Regions from separate parts of the Homo sapiens genome. Here region 1 is linked to region 2. The links come from fine-mapping of genetic effects on gene expression. A gene starts in region 2. The other region holds a variant in brackets. All regions are shown on one strand. Distances are from middle to middle.

The links. PIP is the estimated chance that this variant, and not a neighbour inherited with it, causes the effect.
Region 1: its variant is fine-mapped to the expression of MBOAT1 in whole blood (TOPMed, PIP 0.95).

What each region holds. Positions count from the first base shown.
Region 1 is chr6:20,086,521-20,101,958 of GRCh38, reverse strand. MBOAT1 (membrane bound glycerophospholipid O-acyltransferase 1) reads left to right here. Exons shown (of 13, transcript NM_001080480.3): 13 at 1-2,275. Among named protein-coding and RNA genes, the nearest start is that of MBOAT1, 120 kb to the left of the region's middle. RefSeq lists an enhancer at 9,263-9,766. The variant G/A (reference allele first, on the strand shown) is at 4,227.
Region 2 is chr6:20,208,775-20,225,262 of GRCh38, reverse strand. MBOAT1 (membrane bound glycerophospholipid O-acyltransferase 1) reads left to right here and starts at 12,794. Exons shown (of 13, transcript NM_001080480.3): 1 at 12,794-13,127. The coding sequence starts at 13,029. RefSeq lists an enhancer at 11,766-12,266 and a silencer at 12,449-12,988.

The DNA of each region.
Region 1 (15,438 bases), 120 kb after region 2:
TATTTTTAGTAGAGACGGGGTTTCACCGTTTTAGCCGGGATGGTCTCGATCTCCTGACCTCGTGATCCGCCCGCCTCGGCCTCCCAAAGTGCTGGGATTACAGGCGTGAGCCACCGCGCCCGGCCGGGAGTATTTTTATAAAGCCTTTTTGTACAGATTAATCGGCCATGTCCAGGTTATTGGTTTTGATATTTTATAGGACATTTGAGTGGTGTGGCGATGTGTAGAGAATGTGCCAGAGCTGCAGAGACAGTCCATTCTGGGCTGCTGGCTTTTTGCCCTTCCTGCATGATTTCCAGCTACTGTGACCTGGATGCTGGGAACCCAGGCATCGGCTCCAAAAATTAGAAGGCGAGTGCTGAGAAGACTTGTCACAGGTTTCTCAAATCAGAATATACTCAGTCATAGTGGTTCCCTGGGAAGCCCCAGACCCTTTGACTTGTGACATTACTGGTTTGCAGACATAATAACTACACTCAGAGGACCATGGAGGCAGAGGGATCATGGTTTCAGGGCACTGAAAACTCTACGAGCCAAGAGGACTAGTGCATGGACTGAAAGTCAGGCATGCCCTCAAATAGGCTGTATTTTCTTTCCAGGAATGTAACCTTTCCCCTTTTTCTTCTGACCTGAGCCAAGATTGGAAATCAGAAAGTCTCCTGTACATGGAGCTGAAGAGGGGCTGCTGTTTTCCGAATGTTTTCCATTTCACAGGCGCCACCTGCTTGCCCGGGGTTGGTCTTGAGAAGACACCCAAATGTTCATGCCTCAGAAAGGCAGCAGAATGCCTTTTAGGAAATTTTTTTAAAGTAATTTGAAGTTATATAGAAGTTTGGTAAGAAGAAGCAGTTGTTTCTCTCTTTTCTCCCTCATTTCATGGAGGTGTTAATGATCATGGCTGGCCGTGATGTACACATGGGCTGATTTTCATTTTTTCAGTTTCATAGCTGAGAAATTCAGCTTTGTTTTAGTTGAATCATCATATTGGAAAGCAGACATTGAAAGTTTTCTTTTCTATCTTTGTTATGAATGTGCTATGGCCCCTTTTGGAGACTTCTATTGGGTAATATTCTATGTGAGAGAAGGAAACTTGGTATTAAATGTTGTGGAAAATAATAATGATGATAATAATAAAGTATATGCTGCAATGGTGTACTGCCAATCAGATTGCTTGGGAGAAGAAAATTTATTCAAATCCAACGATAAAAAATTAATTTCTTATTGAATAAACAGTATGTTCCCATATAAAAGAAATGTTTCTGATGGGAATAATTGCTTTTTGTCTGTGTCAATAGAGACACAGGTCCATAAGGTGTCCTACTGCTGCTTCTCTTAGGATAGTGAAATGTGAATGTGATGTGCCTGTTCCTCTACAGCATGTAAACAGTCCTGGTGCTGGGGGAGAGTACTAGAACCCAAACTTTAGTCCTTATTTGGGACAGTGGAAGTTAAGAAGTAGTAGATGTGAGCTAGTGCATGAGTCTCACCCCACTTTAACAAGGAAATCTTGGGGCAACCCTACTTCGCTGTCCCAGGAAGAATCTTAGATAGTGGGTAGGGGAAGGGGGTTGTAGGTATCTAAAATCTGTCAGAGTTTGTCTCCACCAAGAATAGTTTGAGGTACGAGACCAAGAAAAATGTACATCTTGCAAACTAGCAAAAATGGTAAATATTACCATTGGTGTGGAGTATGTGGAATAATCATATTACAGTGAAGTCTTTGAATTTACAATGTGATTGATGATCAGGTTTCACTGTATGTAATGTAAGTATCCTCATGTCTGAAAGAAGAACTTGGTAATGAGAGCAGAGGTGTCTGCTTTGGTGACCAGCTGCCCTGGTTTGCCAAGGACTCTCTCAAGCCCTCAGTCCTGGGCAAGCTGGGGCCATTGGTCCCACTAGTGACTGCCCAGAATTGATTACTCCTTATGGGATGAGGAGAAGTCAAACCTCTAGGAGTTGAGCTTATGGATGCTATATGTCAGACTTGGTGTTAGGCCCTGGGACACAAACATGAGGCTTTATTCTGTATAAAAAGAACAACACATAGGAGACTGATTAGCATCCTTTTTCTTCTGAAAACCACTTACCCATAGAAAAAGATTTCAACTGAGGACCAACATTTAGACGGAAGGTTGGGACTGTTTTTATTACCTTAGATTTCCAAGTTGTCCTAAATATAAGATGCAGTTCATAAATACTTATTGGAATGTGAGCTTTCAGTTGAAAATAAATACACTTTCTGGTTTTGTTTTTGAAAAAGCCAAATCTAAAATATTGCAGTTGTTTTTTTTTTTTGTACTTTGAAGGTAACTATATGGAGCAAGAATATTATTCAGATATTATTCAGTGGTTGCAAAAAGCAATAAATAATTCAGTCTGAGATTTTGACTGGCTAAGAGAGAAAAAGGCGGGAGAAGAAAACTGGAAGAAGAACAGAGGAGTTAGCAGGTGACCCCCAGAACTGGTGCGGCGTGTGTCCCTCCATTACTCTGCAGGCTCCCAGACGGTCCTTTTCAACTCCCACTGCACATTGGAACCACACAGGAAGCTTAAAGAAAGTGATTGATGCCTGGCTCCTCCAGGGACCACATCTTTTTTCTCTTCTTGTCTCTGGGATTTGGCATAGTGCCTGTCCTGTAATGAAGATTCAGTAAGTGTTTGTTGAATGAATGAGGGATTGAATGAATTAGTTTAATGCATCATTGCCCTTGACAGTTTTGACTGAGTCACTTTTGCACTGGGAAACATCATTTCTGCTTTTCAGAATTAGTTTCCGAAATAAAGGCTTGTGTTTTCAGGGAATTCTGAAAGTACATTACGTGATATAATTACTCAGGCAGCCAGTTTACATAGTCTGAACCCCTCTGGTCCACCCTTCCATTAATTAATGCATTCACTTATTTATCAAATGTGTCATGTCTGGTGTGGGCCTGGTACTCTGTGAGGCACTGCAGGTAAAAGATGCTGAAGTCCCCCATTCTCTGCTCTTGGAGAGTTCACGATATGCCCAGAAAGACATGATCCGGAGGAGTGCACAGTAGGAGTGCCCAGGAGAACTCCAGCATTCAGAAATTATAAAGTGATGGATTGCCTGATTCTTGTTTTCTTAGAGTGATCTCATTTTACAGTGTTGAGAGTTACCCAGGACAGCAGCATCACTGCTCTCCAGCCTCATGTCCAGGTGAAGTTAAGCTTGCCCTTGTGCTGAAATTGGGTATTGAGCTTGCAACATGTCAGTGCCAATCAATGCAGCAGGTACCCAGTGGAGCAGACTGATCTCTCATGGTTCCCCGTAGGGGTAGTAGGGTGGCCAATCCCCCTCCGGAGGGATCTTTAGTGAAGTTTGCAGACTTAGTGAAAGACTTCATGAAGCTCCAGAGGAAAGGTATTTGCTTAGAGAAGGTGCAGCCCATGTGAGCTTTGTCTAATGCGCTAAAATTATCTGACGCTACTTACTCTGTGCTAAGACAAAGAAAACTAAGTTATTGGCAGCTACTTTCACATGCATTCCTAACACAGTCTGTGAACTTGGCAGTATTCTCTTTTGCAAATGTGGAAAGCAAGTAGCCAGTAACTTGACGACAGTCATCCAGCTAGTTAGTGGAGGAGCTGAGGTTGGAATCCTGGTTTGGCTGACTCCAGGGTCCATCCCACCACCTGGTGCAGAGCACGTTCATTTTCAAAGAAACGGAGTTTTAAAGCTGGAAGTAACTCCAGCACTCACCTGGTCTAGTGGTTTCCAAATGCTGACCAGCTGGCCTTGTCACTTGGGGAGCTTGCTAAACACGCAAGGAGTGGGGAGATAGATTTGCTGTTAAGTTGCTGATGGTCACCATTCCCTTTTCTCAGGGGAACGGTGTGATTGATATCAACGTGGGATAATGGTCGTGTTACCATAACCTTCTTCCCAGTGGTTAATGGTGATTATATCCTGGTGGAATGGGGAGGTGAGAGCCTAGCTAAATTGTTTACATCAAAAAGAAGGCCTTTTGGAACATCTGTGATTGCTTTGTGTTCCTAAAAGACCTTTTGTTTAACATGGTTCTTTTAATGCATTTTGAGATATGCGAAGTTTGGCCTAGATTTTAAGTAGCTGGTATATGTAAACTTTGGGGAAATTGGGCAGAGACTACTCAGTGGAATAAAGAGATGGCAGAAAATTGGGGCCTGAGGAGAAAGGAAATTCCCAGTGGGTGGCCTGGTCAGGGAGACCTTTAAGAATA[G/A]GAAGGTGGAGAATTACTGGATTCTTACGTAATGTTCCCCTCTACTACCATAGCTGGAGACACATTTCATCTTTAAAAAGAGAACTAAACCTGTTTCTAGTTTAGGCTGGCATTGGGAGGAGATAAGAGAACAGACTAAAATATGCCCAGCAGTAACCTAAGCCTCCCTCAAGAATCAATCTCGAGAAATACAAAATACTAGCCATGGGGTTGGGGAATGGAGCTATGTTCTCCATTATTTGAATTTCTAAATCCAGGGGCATCTTATAAAGCGGTAGACCTTAGGGATCCGCAGGAAACAGATGCCCTCACAGATTTTTGATTACAAACAGACTCCTGGGTCCCACTCCCCAGATATTCTGATTCAGTTGGTCTGAAGCCATGCCTGGGAATCAGTATTCTTAACGAGCTTCCCACAAATTCTGATGTACAGCCAGGTTTGGGAAGTACTGGCTTCATCTTATTTTTTACATTTGAGGAAACTGAGGCTCAGGGTGGGTGGGTGGTTTAATGTCTTGCCCCAGGCATCACAGATCACTTCTGTAGCAGAGATGAGGGTGGAAGCACCTTCTCTTGACCCACTAGGGTGTACTTCCCACAAATAGCCATGCTTTCTCTAAAAAACACCCAGCACGGTGGGTCTCAGAGGAGCCCTCTATCTTTCCTGGGACATTTTCTCAGCTGGGAACACCCTTCTTAGGCCTGAAAATGAGTGTCCAGGTGAGGTGGGTGTTTCCTGGGGACCTATAAGTCTGCACTCTCCGAGTGTGGGTTGGCCTCCGATCCTACGCAGCCTCACAGACAGTTTTATTGTAACTGCTGATCCAACCTGTGGAGGCAGACGGGGAACAATTTTCTAGAAAAAAGCCTTTCTGTGTCCACATGGCCCTCAGGATCCAATGGCCCCTTTTGTTCTCGAACAAAGAAAATTCATAGGGGATATGCACTTTTGGCATTACGATTTACACTGTCTAAGCAGTTGCTGGCTACAATCAATCGTCCATTCATCCCTGGCTTTCTTTCGGTCTATTGTCTGCTTGATGGGCAAAATGGCCTTTCAGCATTTCCAGCTGCAGTCCCAGGTTGCAACTGTCTCTGTGTCCGCTGGTCTGGAAAAGCCACCAGATGCTGGGACAAGTTTTCTGCATGGTCACTGGTAACCTTTTCCCTCCAGTCCTCCATGCTGCTGCCTGGGACTCTTCCTGGTGAGCCCTTCAGGATGCTCCTCTTCATCAAAACTCCTGCCAGCTCCTGCTGTCTACACCATAAAACCCATGCCCTTCCCTTCCACCCTCACCAGCCTGGGTTCCTGGCCCTCCTTTCAGGCAGGCAGCTGTTCCATATGCAGCCAGCGTTTGTGACTTGGTGCCTTTGTAACTTTAAGTTCTGCTGCCTAAAAGAACAACATTTTTTGAATAGGCACTTCCCAAAGCAAAAAGGGCAGAAGGCCTTTTAGACAGAGAAAATGTGCCGTACAAGTTGCTATTTTTCCTGTGAAGTCCTTCTCACTTCTAGCTTCTGCTCATAGATCCCTGATAACACCTTGTGTTGTGATTAGCTTGATGTCATTTGTCCTTCCCCAACCAGATTGCCAGGTGCCTGACAACTCATTTCTTCATACCTGGCAAGTCTCTGACTCAAAAGGGTATTGGATCAATGTTAGTTGAACAAATGAGGGAATGAATGAATTCCATTAGCCATGGCAGGATTTTCTCTGGGATAATGAAGAGGGGCCATCTCGGATAGGTGGGTTGAGTTTGGGGTTCTGGCCCCTGCATTTAGTGACCAGCACTAGAAATGGCCCTAGTGAAATTGAGCCTATGGCTCTCTATTTCCTAGTCCCTTAAAGTCCAGGCTTTCCCTTGATGGTGGTGCTCAATCAAGTTCTCTGGGCCTCTAGGATTCGGGTGGGGTAAGTCCAGCATGCTGGAACGAAGTTCCTACGAGTTTTCCATTTCCTGGGAGTCCATACTGGACTTCCGTCTTTTACAGCTTTTGGTAGTTAGTGGTTCTGTTAGAGACTATGTAGTGTCTCATTGTCTGTATAACTGAGAATGTATTCATCTGTGCTCCTCCCGATGAACTGGCTAGCCCTGCCATAACCAAGTACCACAAGCCGCATGGCTTAAACAACATAAACATTGTCTCATGGTTCTGGAGGTTAGAAGTCTGAGATCAAGGTGTCAGCAAGTTTGGTTTCTTCTGAGGCCTCTCCTCTTGGCTTGTGGCTGCTGTCTCCCTACTGTGTCCTCACATGGTCTTCCCTCTGTGTGTCTTGTCCTAATCTCCTTTTTTTTTTTTTTTTTTTTTTTTGAGACGGAGTCTCGCTCTGTCACCCAGGCTGCAGTGAAGTGGTGCAATCTTGGCTCACTGCAACCTCACCTCCTGGGTTCAAGGGATTCTCCTGCCTCAGCCTTCCAGGCAACTGGGATTACAGGCGCCCGCTACCATATCCGGCTAATTTTTTTGTATTTTTAGTAGAGACAGGTTTTGCCATGTTGGCTAGGCTGGTCTCAAACTCCTGACCTTAGGCGATCCGCCTGCCTTGGCCTCCCAAAGTGCTGGGATTACAGGCATGAGCCACCATGCTTGACCATCTCCTCTACTTATAAGGTCACCAGTCATATTGGATTAAAGCCCACCCTAATGACCTCATTTTAACTTATTTACCTTTTCAGAGACCTTGTATCCATTCACATTCTGAAGTCCTGGGGGTTAGGACTTCAACATATGAATTCAGGAAGGATACAGTTCAACCCATAGAGACCTTTAGTGGTTCTTGCTGTTTCTGTGGTAATAAACTGTGCTATGGTGAACGTTCTTTTGTATTTCTCTGGTGACAGGGTGGACATCATGCAGTGGCATTGCAGGATCTTAGTGTAAAGAAATGCACTCTCAGCTTGCTCGGGTGCTCTTGTTCTCCAGCTGGTTGTATGCGTTTTTTCTTTCCCCAAAATGTGTAACAGTTTTTCTTTGTCCACATTCTCATCAGTACTTGGTATTAGCAGACTCTTATGTTTTGCCAATTGGATCAGTGAGAAAAAATGTATAGAGAAATGTAATTCTCAGGCCAGGTGCGGTGGCTCATTCCTGTACTCCCAGCGCTTTGGAAGGCTGAGGTGGGTGGATAATGAGGTCAGGAGTTCAAGACCAGCCTGACCAACATGATGAAACCACGTCTCTACTAAAAAATACAAAAATTAGCCGGGCATGGTGTTGCACGCCTATAATCCCAGCTACTCAGCAGGCTGAGGCAGGAGAATTACTTGAACCTGGGAGTCGGAGGTTGCAGTGAGCCGAGTTTGTGCCATTGCACTCCAGCCTGGGTGACAGAGTGGGACTTGTCTCAAAAAAAAGTAATTCTCCCTGCTAGGCCTACCTTCAGCTCTCTGTTTTCATCATCTGGATGCAGCCAGTGTTATCTTCTTATGTGGCCTTTCAGAGAAATTCTGTGCCCTGCATCGAGCTTTTCAAGTTGTTGCAAATGTTTTACATCATAAGCATTTCTCCATATTATTGCAGAAACTTCCTAAAAGTTGTTTTTGATGGCTGCATAATAGTGTGTAAATAAATGTGCTATAATTTTGAAAAGCAGTCCCCTAATGGTTGGGCATTTGGTTTCTGCTGCTTTATTTAAAAAATATATTCCTTTTAGAAAAATTTGAAAATACAGAAAAGGAATAAGGCATCTATAATCCCAGCCCCTGTTGGCATTTTATTTCTAGTTTTTGTGTTGAAGGTTTGTTTTGTTTTGTTGTTTTATATTTCTGGTTGTTCTTTGGTATCGGCATTTATCTGTGGAAAAGTCTAATGCTTCCTATAGAGTTTGGAATTTTAATTTTCCATTTAACTTTACAGGATGAGAATGTCCACATGCCATGAAATCTCCCGTCTCTTTCTCTCCTGCTCTAATGAGCATAGCAAGGAATGAAATCCAGTGAAGTTGTAATGGGGGTTGACTTGAATGCGGTTAGGTAATTTATTTAATTTTAAGTGGAAAATCACTTGCAAACCTTAACTCTTTAAACTATTGCTAGTAAGAAATGACTTTTACATATTGTATAGTCCATCACAATGTGGAGATTGAGGCCTCCTTCTCTGAACCGTTTAACCCTTTGCCTGGCGAGTGACTGTTTGTTTAGCCTCTCAGTAAATGGGATGTATTTGTTCTTCCTAAGAAGTTAAGGTGGCGATTGCTGAGCATTCTAAGCATTCAGAGTGTGAATGAATGAATGAACAAATAAATGAATGCTCGACTTCCTAATTCAACATGGAAATCACCAGAAATTCTTGATTAATTCTTCCCAGCTTTAGAGCATTCAGCCTCAGGCTTCATTTAAAGTCTACATTTTTTGCGGTATCTCTTGAGGTAGATTTAAGAGAAAACAAGGAAGTGGTCCCAAAACGTATGCAAAATAACTAAGCCTTTCTCAATGATGAACAAGAAATTCCCTCTGTCCAAAGGATCTAAAATTCTTGACTTGGAATGGGATTTTTCTGAAGTGGTGTGAAATATGGACCTTTAAGGCAAAACAGCTTTTTTGGCCTATAAAGTTGAATGATCCCCAAACCCACCAAGCAGCTTCTTTTTATGAATGAGCTTCCTTCCTTCTCAGCCCCATCAAACTTGAATGGCTAATTGATGAAGATTATTTATCAACAATTTCAATAAGAAATGTTAGGAAGGGGAATCTAATAGAGAATGCCAATAAAATACATCAAACTCTAAAACTTTCTAGGACTGTTAAAAATCAATCTACAAGCATCAGTTGATCTCATGAATAAAATATTTCCATCAAAATAAATTTGAAGTTTATTTTATCAATGTTAAATATAGCTGAAGTTGAAATATCAAGCTTGGTTAACATTATTTTGGTGTATAAAAACTTTTAAGAACTTGAAATGATGATTTGCAAACTGGAGTCTCATGATACTTAAAAAAAAATACCAATAAGCCCAGGACAGCCCTGAACTGAATAATTAAATGCATTAATAGCTTATGTAAACTCACTGCAGTAATTTGAACCTTATTCCCGGTAAGGAAGGTGTGAGGCAAACATTTCAAGAAGAAAGCACTATTTAAAACCCCAGTGTGCTGCCTTTTGGATGTTGCTGAATCACTGTTTTTTTGTGAATCTGAAGCAATGAGAGAGGTAGAATTACAAGAAAGTGCTGAGAGAAAGCTTTGCAAACAGAGCAGGGTAACAGAGTAGTCAAAGTGTCAATCCTGCCTTTGTTTTTGCTGAGAAGTCCCTGGAAACAGGTGAGTGATTGACTTCTTGATTAATGCTTCCCAGCTTAAGAGCATTCAGCCTCAGCCTTCATTTAAAGTCTACGTTTTGCAGTATCTCTTGAGGTAGATAGACTTAAGAGAAAACAAGGAAGCAGTCCCAAAACACATGCAAAATAACTAAGCCTTTCTCAATGAGGAACAAGAAATTCCCTCTGTCCAAAGGATCTAAAATTCTTGACTTAGAATGTGATTTTTCTGAAGTGGTGTGAAGTAGTGACATCTTGTGGCCATGTGAGGTAATTTCTGATGATTTCCATGTTGAATTAGGAAGTCAAGCATTCATTTGTTCATTCATTCATTTGTTCATTCACACTCTGAATGCTTAGAATGCTTAGCAATTGCCACTTTAACCTCTGGTTTTTTTTTGTTTGTTTGTTTTGGAGATGGAGTCTTGCTCTGTCGCCCAGGCTGGAGTGCAGTGGTATGATCTCGGCTCACTGCAACCTCCGCTTCCTGGGTTCAAGCGATTCTCCTGCCTCAGCCTCCTGAGTAGCTGGGACTACAGGTGTGTGCCACCATGCCAGGCTAATTTTTGTATTTTTTAGTAGAGACAGGGTTTCACTGTATTGGCCGGGCTGGTCTCGAACTCCTGACCTCGTGATCAGCCCGCCTCAGCCTCCCAAAGTGCTGGGATTACAGGCGTGAGTCACTGTCTGGTGTTTCTTTTGAACAGTAAATGATAGTCTTTCGGAGTAAAGGTCAGATTTTAATGACCCTATTGCTATAGGGTCAAATAATGAATTGTTTCCCTGCCCTGTCCTCTCTCCACTGTAGGAAAAAAGCACACAGGAGGGTGTGTAAACTCCAAGGAGCAGAGATGCTGAAGGCAAAATAGCTTCATTTAAGGCAAATTTCTGCCTCTACATGCTGTGTGACCATAAAAAAAGTGAGCAACCGGCTCTGAATACTTTTCTTCTTAGGAGGAATGCTAGCAATTATAATTACTCTTCAGAATTGTGGGGATTAAATGAGTTAAACCATAATATGAGTTATGAAGCTGACAGAATTCTCAAATGATGATATAGTGGAAATAGGTCATTGTGATATGGGGTCATATAAGTTCTTTGGAGATCAAGTTTCTTGTGTGTAAAAGGTGGGTATTAAATAAGCTGACCAGCATGGTTGCTTCTGCTTCTAACATTCCATAATTTGATGTTTTTCTTCACACTCTTCTGAACCTCTTTATTTCCAGTAGTGAGCTTCTCAACACTTATTTTTTGGCCTATAACTTTGTAGTATTTTGTTTCCTAGGTAATAAGTTCTGAATGACTTAAAGGAAAATACAGGTGTTTTATATGTTATCTTCCACCACTGACATTTCAGTTTTATGGTTGGAGCAGTTAGGCAAGTTTTTTTTTGCGGGCGGGGAGGTAGGGGAGCGGAAGGATGGAGTCTCACTCTGTCGCCCAGGCTAGAGTGCCAGTGATGTGATCTCAGCTCACTGCAACCTCCACCTCCTGGGTTCAAGCAGTTCTCCTGCCTCAGCCTCCGAAGTAGCTGGGATTACAGGCGTGCGCCACCACAACCAGCTAATTTTTGTATTTTTTGTAGAGACAGGGTTTTGCCATGTTGGCCAGGGTAGTCTCGAACTCCTGACCTCAGGTGATCTGCCCACCTCAGTCTCCCAAAGTGCAGGGATTACAGGCCTGAGCCACTGCGTCCAGCCATTTAGGCAAGTTTCTGAATTTAGAAAGAAGCACAAACATTCTGGCAAATATTGAAGTCTTCACTCTGTGCCTAGCAGACACAATAAATAACATGCCTTGTTCACACACGGAAGTGTGAAGTAGGCATAGGTTCTCTTCTGGCCCATGGTTACTAGGCCAAGCAATGCAGTGAATTAATCTTTCTAGTTCTTCCTTCCCAGCTCACTTGTTTCTCAACAAAACCTGGGACTTGGATAAAATTCACAGATTGAGTTTATGTCTTACCATCGTGGGGGAAAATATTTCGAAACAACCTATCTTTTAGGCAAGTCTATTCTTTCCTTCCTCCCTTCATTTTTTCTCTTTCTTGTGATTAGTTTTCTAAACACTGCAAGACTAGTTCCAGAACCTCATGAAAAGAGGTGACACTCTATTTCATCCCACGTTTTGTTTGTAATTCAGTTTATAAAGTGCTTTCTCTTACATTATTTCCTTTGTTTCCCAAACCAACAATCTAAAGTTAGTGGAACCAGATGTTACTATCCGTTTTAAAATTAGGAACCTGAGGCCTGAATAACTTGAGTGAGTTTCCCATGGACACACCCACAGTAAGTGATGGCAACAGAATCGAAACCCTGGGCTTTCCCCTAGGACTTAGGTCAGGCGTCGCCAAACTGCTCAAGTTCATTTTAAGAATTATATTGGCAGGGCACGGTGCCTCACACCTTTAGTAACAGCACTTTGGGAGACCGAGGCAGACGGATCACTTGGGGCCAGGAGACCAGCCTGGCCAACATGGTGAAACCCCATCTCTACAAAAAATACAAAAATTAGCCAGGTATGGTGGCACATACCTGTAATCCCAGCTACTCGGGAGCCTGAGGCAGGAGAATCACTTGAACCTGGGAGATGGAGGTTGCAGTGAGCCAAGATCATGCCACTGCACTCCAGCCTGCATGACACAGCGAGACTCCATCTCAAAATAAATAAATAAATAAATAAATAATTATGCCAAAAATTCTTCTTGTGCTACTTGAATAACTTATAACTTGTATTTAAAATTTGTTTGTTTTGGTCATGTAAATAAAATTGGGAAGCAGAAAAAGTAAGAAACAGAAAAAAATTGTTTTTTAAGCTTTGTTAATCTCCGAATGATGGATAATCCCTTTAGAGAGAAGGAAAGGCCGACAGACAGTCTTGGGTTATTTCCCCATATGTAGACCCTGAGATGAGGATTGAATTTAAGTAAAAGTAGTTTGTTTGGGAAGTGATCTCAGGAAGCATTTGGAATGGGGAGGTGAGGCAGGGAAGGGACGGATGCTAATGCAGAGTGCATTGATTAGCAGATGACCACTGTGGGCTCTGGGGCTCAGCACACCAGGTAACTCTGTGAGACTGCACAGAGCACACCTCATTCATTCCACTGGAGAGAAGAGGAGGCTGGGGTGCTCATGGACCAACTCTCGTTTGTCACTGACACAACTCCCAGCATCATAGAATGTCCTGGAGGTAGGAAAAGCATGCTCAGCAGTTGGAGAGAGCCCCTTGGCGCAGTTGTAGAGGATTGCAGTAAGAAGCTGCTGCCTGCACAGGAAACATGAGTGTTGAGAGTATGTGGGCAGGGCACGCTAGCCCTGTCCCCTCTACCCATACACCTGCTCTGCCTGTGTCTTACGTGATTACCGACTGTGATTCACACATCTAGCACCATGCAACATGCTAACGGAGACGCAAAATATTTGTAAGGATCTAGTACCTCTTCTTATCACAATAGGTTGATTGAAAATCCGTGCACACCTGAAAAAGTAGCACAGTAAGAAGGCTTATTGTCAAGTGTCAAAATGAGTAAAGCGGACGTCAAATACTACAGAGGCTCAGAGAAGGGAGTAATCAACTGAGAAGTCTTGCTGAGGAATTTGGGTGGGAAGAATGAAGCTTGAATGTGGGACCAAACAGGCAGGTGTGCCGCATCCTTCTCACCTGTCCTCTATACAATGGGAAGTTGAAAGTTTCCCCCTCCTCTGTCAAATTAATATATGAAGATAAGGCTGGGCACAGTGGCTCACGCCTATAATCCCAGCACTTTGGGAGGCCAAGGCAGGCGGATCACGAGGTCATGAGATGGACACCATCCTGGCTAACACGGTGAAACCCTGTCTCTACTAAAAATACAAAAAATTAGCTGGGTGTGGTGACACGCACCTGTAGTCCCAGCTACTTGGGAATCTGAGGCAGGAGAATCACTTGAACCCAGGAGACGGAGGTTGCCGTGAGCCGAGATTGTGCCACTGCACTCCAGCCTGGGCAACAGAGTGACACTCTGTCTCAAAAAATAAAAAATGATAAAATAAAAGAAGATAACTTAAAAAATAGTTTAGAGGCTTATGAGGGAATGTGATTAAAGGTAGATCTAATATTTTTAAAATAATTGATTAAAATAATTGATTCAAAGTGACAAAGGTGCTACTACTACTACTAAACCAGATGGGTGGGGTACTGTTAAAGTCATGCTTAAAATTTATAGCCTTAAATTTATATGTTAGGAAAGAACAAGGTATGGAAATAAATGATCTAAACTTTCATCTCAGAGGTTAGCATCACGTAAGAAAATTAAACTCCCCAAAAAGTTAGAAAGGAGAGAATAAAGGTAAGAGGAAAAGTTAATGAAATAGAAAACAGTCAATAAAGAGGATCAGTAAGACTGAAAGTTCATTCTTGAAAAAGGAGCAATAAAATTGATAAACTCCTGGATATACTGATTTAAGAAAAATAGATAGAAAACACAAACAACTATTACCAGGTATCAAAAAGGAGACAATACCATAGATCCTGATGCAAACAGGATCCTTTTCAAATGCAAATTTAAAAGATTATAAGAATATCATGAACAGCTTTAAACAGTAAGTTTGATGAGTTAGATGAAATTGACATGTTCTTTAAAAGGTCACAACTGACCAAAACTGACACAACAAGGAATATAAAAATCAGAATAATCTTATAACTATTAAATAAATGGGATCTATAATTGCCAACTTTCCCACGAGGAAAACTTTAGCCTCAGAGTCTCAATGGTGAATTCTTCCAAATATTTAAGAAAGAAGTAACGCTAAACTTTTGCAACTTTTTCAAAGAATAGTAAAGAACAAAGATAATCTCTAATGTTTGAATAACCTTGATACAAAATATAACAAACATTATAAGAAAACTACAGGTGAATCCTACTCAGAAACCCTGAACAAAATATTAATGAAGTGAATGGAGCAATATGTCAAAAGGATAATAAACCTTGCTCAGATTGGTTGATTTTGGGAATGCCAGTTTGGTATATAGCATGCTCACAGAATAAAGAAGAGATATTATAATGATCATTTTAATAGGTACATGACAAGCAATTGGATACATTCAAGATCTACTCAAGATGTTAAAATCCTTGGCAAGTCAGCAATAGAAAGGAGCTTCTTTTATCTAATGAACACACAAAAACCTATAGCAACCAACATGTGATAGTGAAAAGTTGAAAGCTTTTTCCTTGAAATTAGGGACAAGAAAACATGTATTAGAATTACTAGTAAATGCAATAAGGCAAGAAAAAGAAATACAGGAGAAAAGGGTTGGAATGGAAGAGATTTTTTATTAAATAGAGTTTTATAGTTTTATACATAGAAATCCTATAGGAAATACATACAGATAAGTTATTAGAATTGATAAGTGAGCTTAGCAAAATCATGAAATACAAGGTCTATATACAAAAGTACTTCCACAATACATATAAAAGAAAAAAGCAAAAAATCCAGACAAATAAATACATATTACAGGACCCCATTTTATGTAAAGTCCAAAAACCAAGAAAAACTCAGGTATATTATTAGAAGTCATGACAGTTACTTTTGAGGAAGAGGAAGGTGTAGTGATTGGGTGTGGGCAGAAGAGGTGCTTCTAGGGGGCTAGCGCACTCTTTCTTGATCGAGATAGTTTTTCACAGGTGTTCACTTTGTGATAACTGAGCAGTACACTTATGTTTTGCTCACTAATTTACATGTAGGAGAACATTTAACACAATAGAAATCCCGGTAGACCAGTTTAGTAAGCAATAGTATCTATAAATAACATATAATTTTAACTTTAGAAACATTAAATTATTTGAAGGCAATTGGAAGAAAACCAACCAGCATTAATTTATAAGCACAGAATCCACAATCAAATTGTGGCAAAAAGTAATTTTGCCATTACTTTTAATGGCAAAAACCACAATTACTTTTGCACGAACCTAATA
Region 2 (16,488 bases):
CAGAGTGAGACTCTGACTCTAAAAATAATAATAATGAAAAATAAAAAATAAAACTAGAAATCTGGAAACCACTCAAATGTCAATTGACCAAATAATTGTTAAATGAATTGTGGTATAGTTTATTCAAAAGAATATTATACAGCAGTGAAAATGATTAAGCTATTTTAACATATCTTGTATGGATGACTCTCACAAATGTAATATTGAGTAAAAAGAAAAAAGAAACCGACAAGTAACAGAGGAGTCACACAAAAGTCAAAACAGATAAACCCAACAACATATGCCTAGAGATATGTACGTATGAGATAAAGCTACAAAAAGAAGAAAGTAAATAACACAAAATTCGAATCATTTTTGCTTTAGGAAGATGGTGACACAGTGAGAAGGGGCATCTAAGGTTTCATAAAGGCACTGGCTTTCGAACATTTTGTTCACTTCTCCCTTAAAGAATTTTGAAAAACTATGAATTTGCTCCTACATTTTAAAGTCAACATCTAAAATTTTTCATCATAAATTGCAATAGTTGCAAAGAATGTAAATTCTAGCATGTTGCAAATATTGACATTCAAAAATAAAATAGGCCGGGCGCAGTGGCTCATGCCTGTAAATCCCAACACCGAGGTAAGAGGATTGTCTGAGCCCAGGAGTTTGAGCCCAGTTTGGGTAATATAGTGAGATCCCCATCTCTACAAAAAAATTAAAAAAGTAGCCAGTTGTGGTGGCACGCACCTGTGGTCCTAGCTACTCAGGAGTCTGAGGTGGGAGGGTTGCTTGAGCCTGGGAATTCGAGCCTGCAGTTAGCTATGATTGGGCCCCTGCAATTCCAGCCTGGGTGACAGAGAAAGACCCTGTCTCTAAAAATAAATACATAAATAAATTTTAAAATAAACCTTGTATCTCTTTTAAGAGTATCCTATGGAATCTAAAACTATAAGTTGATACTAATACCATCCAACAATGGAAAACATTCATGAATAAGCTCTTTAGCATTACAAAAGTAATTCTTCTTCTTTTCTACTTGAGTCCTATTTCTAGTCTATTCCTCCATAGACTTTTATCCTAATATAATACATTTTATGGTTGAATGTCTTCTGTTAACACCATCGTATTTATTCAAAACAAAATATGCTCATAATTGTAATTCTTAACATTTATCTCATTTCCTGAAGTTAGAAAGCTCTAGGATAAAAATTCTTTGAGTTATCTTTATGATTATTATCAGTACACATTTTATCAAAAATCCATAAAAACATTATAAATATTGATAATCATTAAACATAAAAAGTAAAATTTAATGGAAATACATCTCTTGATGAGAAGAATAATGATTTTGCTTTTTCTATGGTTTTAACAAAGATAAATGTTTATACTGGTGAGAACGGCAGGGACTAGGGATTACCTTATTTAAAAATTTTTTATTCATAGGAGGTAGAAAATGGTAAGAAAATGGTTTTAACAAAGATAAAAGTTTACACTGGTAAGAACTGCAGGGACTAGGGGTTACTTTATTTAAAAATTTTTTTATTCATAGAGATAGAAAATGGTAAGCATTTTATAGGATGAAATAAAATGAAAAATCACTTTAATTACAAAACATTTCTTAATTGCTAAAATAGGTTTTAATTACTACCTTGAATAACACATACCAAAGCTGAAAGAAATTCCATACAAGTTTTATCTTTGGATTTTTATCCAAAGTTATCATGAAAATTTTGGCAGTTCCCAAAAATATTCCAGTTACATTGAAAAAAACCAAAATCACCCTTTCTGTTTCAGCTGATCAAGATGTTTTTATTTCCGGTAAATGACACATCCTAAGAAAGTACTGAGCATAGCTGAAAAGAAGTTCTTCTACTTATACAGAAAATAAAAGCCCAAGTACTTAGTGCTGAGTATTTCTTACCCCCTCTCTTTCTGTTTTCTCTCCCAGGACACTTCCTCATTCTTGAAAATGGGCTGGGGAAGGAAGAGGTGAAAGTTTTCATGGTCATCCCCCATGCCTTTGTCCTTATCACCATCATATGTCTGAATTGAGAACATCTTAACAGGGCCCCAAATACTCAATTCTAAAAACCATGCTTGACCCTTTACAGGAGTATGTATAAAATGGGAGACACAGAATGTCCTGTAGGTTTATGGGGCCTTACTTAATCCCTCAGGAGACAGGGATCATCTGGAGCTGAGCTGGTTCTCACCCAGGGCCCCTGTTCTATTGTGAGATTTACAATGAATGCCTTGGTCAAGTGCAAGGAGAGCTATTGTGAACTCAGGAGTCGTCAGGCAAATCGGTTGCAGGAAAAAGTATATATGGAATTGAGGTATCTAATAATTCCTAGTAGATTCCTAACACCAACCATTTTAATGGTTGATGCCTATGTGCCCTCAGAAAGTCCTTGAGTACGTGGGGCAGTAGGGGCGGGTGGGGTGGGGTGCTTGCTTGGCTTGAAGAACACTGTGGATGGAATTTCTGATGTTTTACTTCTTAAAATGGGTGTCTGTTTTATTAGACTTTTTTTTTTTTTTTTTTTTAAGACAGGGTCTTGGTCTGTTGCCCAGGCTGGAGTGCAATGGCATGATCTTGGCTCACTGCAGCCTCAAACTCCTGGGCTCTTGGGCTCAAGCATCCCTCCAGCCTCAGCTTTGCAAGTAGCTGGGACGACAGGTGTGTGCCACCACACCAGGCTAATAGACTATTAGGCTATTTTAAATTATTTTATATATATATAATTTTATATATAATTATATATGTGTATATATATTATATGTATTTATATATATATAAAATTGGTTGGGCACAGTGGCTCATGCCTTGTAATTACAGAACTTTGGGAGGCAAGGCGGGTGGATCACCTGAGGTCAGGAGTTTGAGACCAGCCTGACCAATATGGTGAAACCCCGTCTCTACTAAAAATACAAAAACTAGCTGGGCATGGTGGCAGGCACCTGTAATCCCAGCTACTCAGGAGGCTGAGACAGGAGAATTGCTTGACCCAGGAGGTGGAGGTTTCAGTGAGCCCAGATCACGCCACTACACTCCACCCTGGGCAACAGAGTGAGACTCCATCTAAAAAAACAAACAAACAAAAATTATATATATTATGATATTAATAGACTATTTTTGTTTAAATTATATATATTATACATATGATATATCTCTCACTAAAGTTTTAAAAAATCTACTACATCTATTAAACTAATAGTCTATTTTTGTTTAAATTATATATATGATTACACATACATATGACATATCTCTCACTAAATAAGGTTTAAAAAAATCGACAAAGTTCATGGGGCAGTGTTATTTGAACGCTGTAGCCCAGGAAGTTTCGGTTTATAGGCATTGTAGGGGAGGAAGGATTTCTTTTCCTCACTCATTACTAGGTTCATGGCTGAGGCATTTATAACAAAAGGCAGATCAACAGGAGAAAAGCATCTGCATTTATTTAATGTAAGTTACACATGACACAGGAGCCTTAAGAAATAAAGACCCAAAGACACAGGGAAACCTGTGTGTTTTTATGCTTAGGCTTGATGAAGTGGATACTCCTGTGGAAGTGTGATTGGTCAAAGGGCGTCTGATCTAATGGAAATAAACTGGGGGAGCTTAGCAAGGCACGTGCGTTCAGATTCCTCTCTGTGTCCCTGTGTCTTCTCCCAGCTTCAGGGAGGGCACCTCTTGAATGAAGGTTTTATGACCTGCTTCAGCAAAGAAAGGTGAAGGGAAAGTGAGAGTGACCTTCTGCCTCTGTCATTTTCTCAAATGCCAAGATGCTTTGTTGGATATGATCTGAGCTCTATCAGTGTGAGAATTGGAGGAAAATGTAAAATGTTCACAACTAGTAGGAGAATTTCTTTCAGAATGGTCTTGTTTATGGAGGGAAACAATAAGCTCCTTTAGGGGCTGGATTTTAAGCAGCTTGGTAGGCAAAGAGATAGGTTAGTAGTTTTAAATTAAACATGAAAGAATTTAGGTATAGAGGAAAGCAGAGGGGAGTCGGGAGGAGAATAGGGCGGGAGGGAGTAACCAAGGAACCTAGCTGGGGCTGCACCTATAGAGAAAGGAGAAAGTGCAAAATTTGCTAGTAGAAGGGATGCCGAAGCATCTTTTAGAAATAGTGACATCCATTATGGAATGTTAAGGCTTTTGAATGTCTGCAACATGGATTCCCTGGTCCTTTTACGTCTTCAATATATGGTCACACACAGATGCTAAATGTGGATGGAGGGAAAGAGAGAAGCAGGTGAGGACCCAGAAGGACCAGGAACAGGGGTCTAGATGAGAGAAATGCCCAGGCATTGGTAAAATCTTGCAGCTGGCATAGGACTTTGCATACAATATACAATCTTTGGCTTGGGTTAATTTATCTGAATTCCACAAGACAGAGTGGCTTTGGTGGGATCTAGGATACATATGTGTCTGCACAAGCAATATGCAAAATATGCCTCTGTCAACTTCAACTTAATAAATAAATATGCTAACCAAAGATGCTAGCAAATGAATATGCTGAAAAATGTCTTGAATTATTGGTAGGTATAAAGTGAGATAATTCTCCTTTACTGTGTTTAATATTAACGGAAATAACTTTTAAAGTATAATGCTCAAAAGCATGTAAGTGATTAAGTTGGCTCCCCTCTGCCTTCTCTTGCAATAAAAGACTCTAAGCAATAAAGGTTTGAATGCTACATGCAGAGGTTGAAAAAAAAGAAAAAGCAATAAAACGAGTCCAAAGTGGGTAGGGTTAGTTCTATTTTTGGCAATAACTCCAATGTGGTAGGACATAGGCATTATGCTTTGGTCTGAATGCATGCCCCCAAAATTGTTATGTTGAAACATAATCTGCAATGCCGTAGTATTAAGAGATGGGGCTTTTGGGAGGTGATTAGGTCATAAAGGCTCCAGCCTCATGAATGAGATTAGTGCCCTTATAAAAGCGGCCAGAGGCTGGGCACGGTGGCTCACGCCTGTAATCTCAACACTTTGGGAGGCCAAGGCGGGCAGATCACCTGAGGTCAGGAGTTCAAGACCAGCCTGACCAACATGGAGAAGCCCTGTCTCTACTAAAAATACAAAATTAGCTGGGCGTGGTGGCACATGCCTGTAATCCCAGCTACTCGGGAGGCTGAGGCAGGAGAATCACTTGAACCTGGAAGGCAGAGGTTGCAGTGAGCTGAGATCTTGCCATTGTACTCCAGCCTGGGCAACAAGAGGGAAACTCCATCTCAAAAAAAAAAAAAAAAAAGTACAAAAATTAGCCGGGTGTGGTGGCAGGTGCCTGTAATCCCAGCTACTCAGGAGGCTGAGGCAGGAGAATCACTTGAACCCAGGAGGCGAAGCGGAGGCTTCAGTGAGCTGAGCTCGTGCCACTGCACTCCAGACTGGGTGAAAGATCAAGACCCTGTTTCAAAAAAAAAATAGTAATAATAAAAATTAAAAAATAAAAAAGCCCCAAGGGAACTTGTTCACTCCTGACAAGTGGGGACACAGGTAGAAGGTGCCTTCTTTGAGGCTGAGAGCAATGCCTCACTAGATACTGAATCTACTGGCACCTTGATCTTGAACTTTCCAGCCCCCGGAACTGTGAACAATAAATTTCTGCTTATAAATTACCTAGTCTAAGATATATTTTTTTTCTCTTTTGAGATGGAGTCTCATTCTGTTGCCTAGGCTGGAGTGCGGTGGCACGATCTTGGCTTACTGCAACCTCTGCCTCCCAGGCTCAAGTGATTCTCCTGCCTCAGCCTCCAAATTAGCTGGGATTATAGGCACCTACCACCATGCCCAGCTAATTTTGTATTTTTAGTAGAGACGGGGTTTCACCATGTTGGCCAGGCTGGTCTCGAACTCCTGACCTCAAGTGATCCACCTGGCTCGGCCTCCCAAAGTGCTGGGATTACAGGCGTGAGCCACCTCACCGGCCTAGTCTAAGGTATTTTGTTACAGCAGCCCAAACGAACCAAGACACATTATCATCCAAGATTTGTAGCCAGAAGCTCATCACTTCTCATCTTCTTCCCTGTTACCATCCCCACTCCTCCCACTCCAGTTTCTTGTCTGGAGTCCTGAAATAGCCTCTTAATTGGTTCCCTTGCTTCACTCTTTGTGTTCCTCACTGTCTGTTCTCAACATGTGGCCAGAGTGATTTAAAATATATATATATAAACCAGATATAATATATAATCCTCAGCTCATATCCCAGCAATAACTCCCATAGCAATCAGAGGAACAGCTCAAGCCATTTGCAATGGCCCCAATCTCCCGTGGGCTGCCTCCCCATACCTCTTGGGTTCATTTCCTTTCTCTCTCTCCTCAGTCACTCTGCTCCAGCCTTACTGGCCAGACAAATGTTTTTCCATTTTGCCAGGCCTGCTCCTGTTTTAGGGCCTTTGCTCTAGATGGTTCCTCTTTCTGGAATGTGCTTTACCTAGAAATCTATTTGGTTAACTCCTTCACCTCCTTCCAGTCTTTGATTAAATGTGGCCTTCTCAATGAGGCCAATCTTGACCACCCTATTAAATAATGCAACATATGGGCTGCAGTATTTACTCTGCTGTGCTTTTCTGTTTTTCTATGCACTTATTATCATCTAACATCATAATATTATTTTAAATGTTTTTCATTGATGTCTTTCCCTGGCAGAGTGTAGGCTCTGTGATGGGAATGATTTTGTTTGTTAATTGATGTGTATCCCAAACACCTAGAACAGTGTTTATAAATAATAGTTCTTTAATAAATATTTGCTGAACGTTGAGTCCATTTTCATAAGCAAAAGCACTGTTTCCCGAACAGTAATCTGGGGAAGGTTTCTTCTAAAGGATGTACACAAAACAAATCCTGTGGTCAGCTAAGTTTGATGGCCCCTTCTTTGAAACTGACATGAGTGCTTATTAGTAGATTTTTTTGTGATCTCTGTGAACATCAAAACTTACTTTACAGGATACTCAAGGAGATCAATCAATAATGATGGAAAAGTGTTTAAAAATGAAATGAAAGTTGCAGCAATGATACATTAGGAGTATAAGAAGAGAGCCTAATGAATAGGGGCAAATACCTATTTTAGTGCTATAAATAACATTTCACTGTACACTCAGCATTTAGGGCTGGCCAGTCTAATGTGCTGACGGAAGCCCACACAGACTCAGAACAACAAGCTGGGTCATGAGGACTTAAGTGAGAAGAGAAGAGACAGTCATGAGTTCAGCTGGCTGCATTGATTGCCAGGAAACTATCCACCCATTCATTCCAAAACATTGTTGTGCTTGGTACTATCATTGGCCCTGGGAAGTGGGCCGCAGAACAGAGTGAAAAGTAAGGGAAAAATACAAGAGTTGAGGGAGATTCCAATTGGTCTCCAAGGCAAATATAAAGTCTTGGGTCGAGGGGTTAACACTATGCAGCTCCCTGAAGCCTAAGGTGACAGTGGCCTCAGCAACAACACCCAAGGTGGAGTTAGGGTAGAGGACAGGGAGGGTGGGGCCAAGCACCTCCCAATACCCAGCGGCTCCAGGGCATTAGGCAAAGCCCCAGCTTGCTCTTTTTTCTTACTGCAGCCAACCATGGAATCTGGGTAGCACAGGTTTTTGTCTGTCTTTATGTACTCAAACATTATCTTCAATCACACTTTGCTATTCATAGGACACTTTGGCAATAGTAACTATTTGGAACACAGTCAAAGAAGTAGGAGGTATGGAAAGTGCCTCTGAAACAATGGCGTGGAGGATAGAATGGCTTGGAGTTTATCTGCTTAAAATAAAAATACTTTACTTTTTTAGGAGCTCCTTAGGCACTCTGCCAAAGCCGAGTGACTCTACGGCAATTCGTAGAGCTCCCCAGTTCACAGGGGAACCAAAGTAGCAGGCAAGGCAGGGACAAGTGAAATACAAGAGCAGAAGGGGAAATGGAAAAACTAGAAAGTAGACACAGTAGTTGAGAAAGTGTACCTCTCTGGGCATAGTTTAGAGCAAGGACAAACTCTTTTTTTTTTTTTTTCTTTTTTTGAGACAGTTTCACTTTTGTCCAGGCTGGAGTGCAATGGCACGATCTCGGCTCACCACAACCTCCGCCTCCCGGGTTCAAGTGATTCTCTGGCCTCAGCCTCCCTAGTAGCTGGGATTACAGGCATGTGCCACCATGCCTGGCTAATTTTTGTATTTTTAGTAGAGACACGGTTTCCCCATGTTGGCCAGGCTGGTCTCGAACTCCTGACCTCAGGTGATCTGCCCACCTCAGCCTCCCAAAGTGCCAGGATTACAGGCGTGAGCTACCACGCCCGGCTGCAAGGACAAACTCTTGATGTGTCAGTGGACTTCAAGACATTGCTGTATTGCAGGATGGGTTCTTGTTCACAATAATGCCTGAGTCATCAGTAATGATTAAGCTAAGATCACTAACTCTGTTTTAGTATTCAGGGTCACGTGCAATGCATTTTAGAAAGATCTCCCTTGCCTAAAACTAAGGCAAAAATGAAACATTAGTGCAGAAAGGGTAAGCTTCAGTTCTTTTATGTTTTTTGAACAAAATCTCTCCTCCAGTTCTTAGACCTGCTGCAAGGGATCATTATTCTTATTCCTATTTTACAGAGGAGGAAGCTGGGCCTTCATGAAGTTCATTGATTTGCTCAAAGTCCCCAAACTAGTAAAAGGCAGTACTGGTTTTTCATACCCGGTTGTTTTGCTCTAAAGGCTGAGTTCTTGGCCTCCTGGCCTCAGGACATCTTCCTACTTTGGCCTCCCAAAGTGTCAGAATTGCAGGCATGAGCCACTGCACCTGTTAATTCCTGGTCTAATACAGTATTCTTAAGCAAAAAATGCTATAACATAGCAGTCATAGCTAAATCTGGCAGATGTTCAGTTATATTAGTTTCTTCATTTTCTGAACATGTACAATGTTTAACTGTGATCCCAAGCTTGGAAAATATGTTGGGTAGGCAGGTTGCAATATATGTTCCAAGCAAACACACATCAGTTGAGCTAAAACATGAAGGAATACATCATTGATTGAAAAACATAAATTACCTGAAGCTTTGTGGATGATGCTTAAAGAAACTGCTCAGAAAACAATGGTGATACCTATCATGGGTCAATTTTGACCATTCTTCAGATCAGCTCTCAAATGTTAAGCCTGGAATTTAATGTCCTATGCAGGCAACAATTTCTGCTATTTTCCTGAAGGAAAATAGTATTATACTCCTAGTATAATAAAAAGTATAATAAAAAGATTTCTGTATAGTTAAAAAGAACAGTAGAATACCCAAGTTTGAACCCTACACTTGCTGTTTACTAGATGGATAAGCTAGCTGCAATTTATTAGAAACAGTATTCATTTGAATAAAAATTGAGATGACATGATAATACAAATGATAATAACACCTGCCCTTCCAACTTCATAGAGTTGTTGGGAGGATCAAAGGGGATAAGTGAGTGTGCTCTGTGAATATATAGTATCATTACATTAATATGTAGTATTATTAAAATGGTAATTCTTTTTTTACATGGGTTATATCATTTCAGATGGCTTAAATTTAGTTTTATTGGTGATTGTTTTTGGTTGAATATAGACTGAAGGTATCATTAGAGTTTTATCTCCTTGAGGGATTATACCTTTGTAAACTTTGAGGATGTATTTAATTCAGTTTTGTTCTTTGATTATCAGTTATGTTGTTTGATTTGATTTGGTATGTGAAGTAGGAAGAATGGAAAGTGCCTCTGAATATCCATGATAGAATGGCATGGAGTTTATCTACTTAAAATCAGAATACTTCACTTCTTTAGGAACTCCTTAGGCACTCTGCCAAAGCCTAGTGACTCTACAGCAGTTTGTAGAGTTTTTATTAGTCCATGGTAACATGCAGCCCTTCCCAATATGCTAGAATCTTTTTCAGGTTTTTTTGTGCCTGGCTTTAATTTTTTGACCTGTCTTCAGGATGTGCAGTGGATCTCCTGGATAATGTCACATTCTGAGCATGGTTCCATAGGGAAGATTCATAAAACTGACCTTGATATCAAGCCTCACTCTACTGCAAATAGAAAACAGGAGAGACAGCGTGTCTGTGGCATCACCCCTACCACCTCATTTTGAATGGTAAATGTAATGTCTCGTCTACAAAAATGACAAGGTTGTATCAGGTGTGTGGGCTGGCCTCTTGATAAAGAGAAAAATACTATGTTTTAGAGGAGGCAATGCATAATGAATAAAGAGCCCAGGCTCTGGAATCAGACAGACACATTTTACTTAACCTCCCTAAATACAACCAAGTCACTTAAGCTCCCTTAACCCCAGGTTTCACATCTATAAAATAGATTCTTATAACTACCACAGGATTATTAGCACTGGTAAATGAAACAGCTTTTGTAAAGTGATTTCTAACATATGATAATAATTATTGTGAACCTACAGTTGACAGAGGATGGAAATAGAGATACTGATGAAGGAAAAGAGCAATGTGTCCATGGTGCCGCTGTTATACATCTTGGACTCATATAAACAACTTCTTCAAAGTGTGTTTCATTCATCTGTAGTGTAACAGAGCTACTCTCTTGGTTCTGAGTTATCCAACAGTAGTATTTTTTTTTGCATTAATTGTACTACAGTATCAAGAGAAAAGAACTATTAAGTTCTGTGACATTTTGTTTATAAGCTCTAACCATAGTTACTACATTTTTATTTTTATTTTTTTTTTTGATGGAGTCTTGCTCTGTTAGCCAGACTGGAGTCCAGTGGCGTGATCTCTGCTCACTGAAACCTCCGTCCCCTGGGTTCAGGCGATTCTCCTGCCTCAGCTTCCCAAGTAGCTGGGATTACAGGTGCCTGCCACCACACCTGGCTAATTTTTGTTTTTTGGTAGAGATGGGGTTTCACCATGTTGGCCAGGCTGGTCTCGAACTCCTGACCTCAGGTGATCTGCCCGCCTCGGCCTCCCAAAATGCTGGGATTACAGGCATAAGCCACCGCACCCGGCCATTTTTAAAAGAAAAATTTAGACTAGGTTATGAACTGTGTTTTGTTAGGGAGAAAAAAACCTGTGTAAGGCTAATACATGTATATATTTTACATATACATATATACATATGTATATATCAAACCTGTGTTATATATATATATAAAAACTGTGTAATATATGTATATATAAACCTGTGTAAGGCTAATATATGTACATATAAAACTTTACATATATAAATATATTTATATATGATTATATAAATTAATATATTTATAATAAATATATATACACACGCACACACACACACATATATATATATGGCCTATGTGAGGACTATTCTTTGAAGTCTAAAAGGCATAGCTTTGTGAAAATTATAAAGGGTCTGAGGCACTTGCTCCAGAAATACTTCCCAAACTGACCTACTTCTGTTTTCCAGCAACTCATATCTGAGTGTTGATTTTTTTTTCCTTTTAAACAAAGCTCCGTCTGCTCTCATATACCTCACTTCAGCTGTCATCTAGCTCCAGATAAGATGAATGTTGCTCCAATGCTGGTCATTTTCCAGGACTCTATGATATTAAATGAACCTATCTAGCCTAGTGATCCTCAAGTATATGCCTGTGTGCGTGTGTGCATGTGTCTGTCTGTCTGTAGTGTGGGTTTGCTTGTGAGTGGTAGAGATTATCATCTGGTGGTGACATCTCCATTCGGTTAGCTTGTGGGAGTGGTGGTACAGACTTTTTTTTTTCCTCCTCCACAGGGGACATAGGTTGAGAAACTCTGGCCTGGCAATTTAATGCTCAGTGCAGTTTGATGGTGATAAAACTCCTGAAGAAGGCAAGAGTGAGGCCTGAGTCTTGGAGAGTAAGTTGTTGCCAGTGCCTGACAGGCCTTCGGTTTAATTTGAAGCTGGAGGCCACATTGATAAAGTCGGCCCCGAAAGTCATTGCCTGTCTGATCGAATGCCGGTTTACCCAGCGGAGGCTGGGGGCCACGTGAGCTCACTTTCTTTGGTTTTCTACCCAGCAGCCCAGAATATTACCTTCCTGAAACCCTTTTTCATCAGCTAGCGATTCCTGAAAAGGATCTTCAAGATTTTTATGTTTCTCAGAACCTAGCAATAACTTGGAAAAGTTTTCCAAGTAACATTGATGTGTGGGTGTTCGGGGGCAGACAAGTTAAGGAGCAAGGCACCCTTTTTGAGGACCCGTGGCATGCAAATGACTTATCAGAATGCACATAGTATGACAGTAAACACCGTTTCTTACAGAGGTGAAATAACTCTCACTCCACAGAGACGGAAGTGACCCGAAGCTAGCAGTCCCCTGTATTTGCTTGTGTGACACCGAACATGTCAGATCAGGGTGTAGGAAACTATGCCTAGCGCAGAGGAGGGTAAAGGAAGTAGGGAGTCTGGTGGCTGCGGCGCTCCAGCTTCCAGCCACCGGCAGAGGAACCCTCTACGGCTTGAAAGGGAAACGCAGCCACTCAGCCGCTTCGACTGCGGCGGCGAAACCAAAACAGGGTGGGGCGGGGTGGGTGGTGCTCTCTAGTGGAAGGCGCCCGCTGGGTGAGGTCGTTTTGTCTGGCGGGGGGCTAGGACGGTCAGCCCGGGAGGAGGAAAGGCGCGTCCCGCCTCCAGCTGCAGGGCCAGGCGGCGGCGCCCGCTGGCGTCGCTTTCCCTCTCCCGGTCGGCCTCGGTGCAGGCCAGGCTGGGCGGGCCGGGCGGCGCTTGGGGGCCGGGCTCGGAGTCCCCACTTTTCCTCCCTCCTTCCCTCCTCTCGGGGCCGTCCCGAGCGGCCGGGCCAATGGGCGCGGAGAGGAAGGGAGCGGGAAGCGGGGCGCCTTGGGCCCGGCCCTCCTACGGCGCCCGTGGCTGCAGCGCCAGCGCCAAAGCCAAGTTTGCGCCTCGAGAGTTTGCGCCTCGAGAGTTTGCGCCGGTTCGCATTCCCCGGCCTCCCGTTCGCTCCCCCGCGAACCAGGCGGCCGTGCGCCTCTCGGGGCAACCACCCAAGAGCACCCGGGCGGGAGGACGCCGAGCAGGGGGTGTTGCGGGCTGGGACAGGGGCAGCCACCTCCCGAAGATGCAGGATGGCAGCAGAGCCGCAGCCGTCCAGCCTTTCCTACCGCACCACGGGCTCCACCTACCTGCACCCGCTCAGCGAGCTCCTGGGCATCCCGCTGGACCAGGTAACTGCAGGCCGGGAGCGCAGCGACCCCAGCTCCCCAGCGATCGCGTGCACGGGGCGGGCGAAAGTGTTAGCCACCGTCCCTCCGCCTCCATGGCGTATTTTACAGCCACACACTAGACAGTTGGTTTTTGTGTGTGTGTGTGTGTGTGTGTGTGTGTGTGTGTTTTCCCTTCTTGAGTTGGTGTTAGTGTTTTTCTCCTTGTAAGTGTGAAAAAATATTGGTACAGCCTGCGCGGCAAGTTCTACTGAACTTTTTTTTCTTTAAGTTTGGGATTGCCTCGTTTCCTGTAATCAAGTTCTGAAGTAGTCTGATACATGAAACCAGTGTTTCTTTCATCAGTGTCCTCAAGTCGTTATTGTTTTTAATTTAGATGACCCTACTTAAAAAACAAGCGCGATGAATCTGTAGACGGTAGTCTATAGATTTTGAATGCAGGACCTGGGTTTTAGACTTCTGAGGCGAGGCTTGTTCAGGGGTGACAGTTATTTTGTACCGTGTGTGATGCGGGACACACAAGGACACTTTGGTTTTCCCAGGGTTCGGTTGGCTCATATGCCTGGGGCTGGAGCTTCTGAGTAGGACAGGTTAGGGGGAGGAGAGGGGCCCCAGTGAAGTTATTTGAACTGTCCAGGAATTATCTACAACCATTAAAATTAAAAATGGCAACAACAGTGATTCCTGGCAAGAAACCTTCCTGAAGATGAAGCCCGTCTTACTCATTTCCTTGTCTCTTCAGGTGCTGCAGGCTAGATCTGCGGGATACTTAGTAGTGACCCAATCAGTAAATGTTGATTTAAATAGAATTGGGCAGGGCATGCTGGGGGAGGACCCACTGCGCTCCTGTTTTGTTTCATGCTTTTTTGCCTGGTTTTCTTCCCCTTCCTCTCACCAGTGCTCCTTTTCCTTTCCTTTTAACAAGAGCACACCTGCTGCCCTTTGCGCACACCCCTTCAGCAATGAGAAAGTGAGACCTGGACATTTGCCTTATTCGGGTCCTGTTTACTGAGCCACCCTCATACCTGGCTCACTCTGAGGACCTGACTGAGAACTCCACCTGATGTGACCATTGCGTTCTCATCAGTTGCAGAATACAGAAAGTCAGAAACTTGGGAAGGGTTTCGGTGCCAAAGCATTTGTGCTTTTGTAAATTACTCTTTAGTTTCTGGTGAGGATGAGATAGACCCAGGGACCCAGGCAGAGGCGGACATAATAGCAAATTCTTTAGTTCTGAAATTAAATAAAACTCATAGCTGAATTTCCTTAAGGGGAGTTTGTTTTGTACTTACCTCTCCACTCCCTATCAGAAGGTATTTTAATTGCATTTTCTCTTCTAAGCTCTTCTACACAGCTAGAAAGACTCCAGGAAGGCTTTTTGTATGGCTAAAGGACCATGGCAAGTTATGGCTGGGAGGTGCTAGAATAATGTTTTTAATGTCTTTCAATTGCATCCCCTACTTTCCTATAAAGGTAATTCTGGTTTTAATTCATAAAAAGGAACAAAAGAGCCTTAGGAATGTTTAAAACTGGGAGGGAGGGAGGGAGGGAGGGAGGGAGAGACTTCTGGGATAAACCGAAGGAGAAATGTTTGCCATGGCCAGGAGCACCTGAGATCTCTTAGCTCTTAGGTCAGTCTGACCACCCTCCAGCAGGAGTGAGTGTGGATGACCCTTGGTGGAAGAAGCACTTAAAAGGCAGTGCCCCAGGTAGCTTATTTTAGGCCCAAGGAAAATCCCCAAACCATAAATAAGGTCGTTTGAGGCTACGTTGTGGCTTGCGAGTTTGGAAGCTTTGTGTGTTTTTTCCCTTTCACATTTTTAAGGCTTTTTAAAGGCTTAGATGTCAGACTGACCTGGGTGCAATTCCAGTTCTGCCAGCAAACTTCCCTTTGTGACTGCCAGCTGGTACTCTACCCTCTTGGAGACTCAGCATCCTCATGTAAAATGGGAGATGACAATAAGACCTACCTTTTGAGGTTGAGAAATTTTATATGATGTGAAATGCCCGACATTAGGAAGGTTCTTGTATCAGGGTCCTTGCAGGAAACGGGAACCAACCCCATTGGCTGAAATGAACAGACTTTAATGAATTACTTAGAGGGGTATGGGCAAGTTTAAGGGAATCAACAAAGGATGTTGAGATGCTGAGATCAGAAGTAGGGGGCAGCTGGAGGGGAAAGTGGAGTTACTTCATTGCCATTTGTGAGAGCTGGACCTGCCTGGAGGTCATGAAGAATCAGAGAGAGAACCTCAGCCCTTCTTCCTACCTTGTAGCCCTTCCATCTCTTCACAGTGGCCCCCAAGGCCTCAGCCTGCAGGGGCTCCTCCTGTGGCACAGGATAGGGAGGATAAAGGTGGAGGCAGATCTAGGGAGTAACCTGAGGATAAGAGTGCAGGCCTTGATACGTGTTTGCTCCTGTCCCATTAGAGAGTGACTTTTGATTGGCCTGGGATATGCTCAAAATTATAAAATATATATCTCAAGTTACTCAAATAGTTTTTTGTATGCCTCTTAAGGACACTGAATCATTTCCTAATGTCTTAACATCCTAATTCCTGATTAATTGCACTCCTGTGAATGTCTTTAGCCTCTGGATCCTGTGTCAAGTAGTTTATTATCAGCAAAAATGGAAATACCTGGTAAGCATTCTGCTTCGTATGTGAAGAACTCTTTATTCATTCTTTTTCATCTGATTCTTCCATTTATCTGTTCTGTTAACTTCGTGGCATCCTTAAATAGGAAAGCCTGTGTGTGGTTAGGACTATACTCAGGAAAAGTCTATGGTTTTTGTTTTAGGGATTTTGATTAGTCTGACATCCTCCTAAAGATGTGAAATATAAAATTATCTCCCTTAATTAGAGACAAATAGCGCATAATAATTCAGATGCAGAATACAGGAAATGGGATGATGACTTAGGGGCCTCTATAGATGCTTCAAAGATAAGGTTGTTGAAAACTTTATTTCTAAATAATGGGCCCTTGTCCAGTGAGCAAATATGGAGTTATGGTAGGTGGTAGGATTATGCCAATAAAAACCTTCACTTAGGATAAAGTGGGCAAGCACTTTTCTTTCCTGTTTTGGGGGAATCAAGGAATCATCTGCTCCTGTCCTCCTCACTTTGTTTTGGTTGTGGAGTGTAACTTAATGTGCCTTTAAACTAAAGGTTTGCAAGACTGACTCAGTTGCCAAAACAGATATGATAATGTTGATGTTAGTAATTTGTGTAGTGCACAGTTACGTCATTATGTCCTAGGAGCTGTGAAAGCTGAAATGGAAAGTGTTTCCAGGCTTTAAGGAACTTCCAATTTGGTGGTTGGAAATTCTGCCCACCAGCAAAGCATTTTTGGGGTATTTCACCTG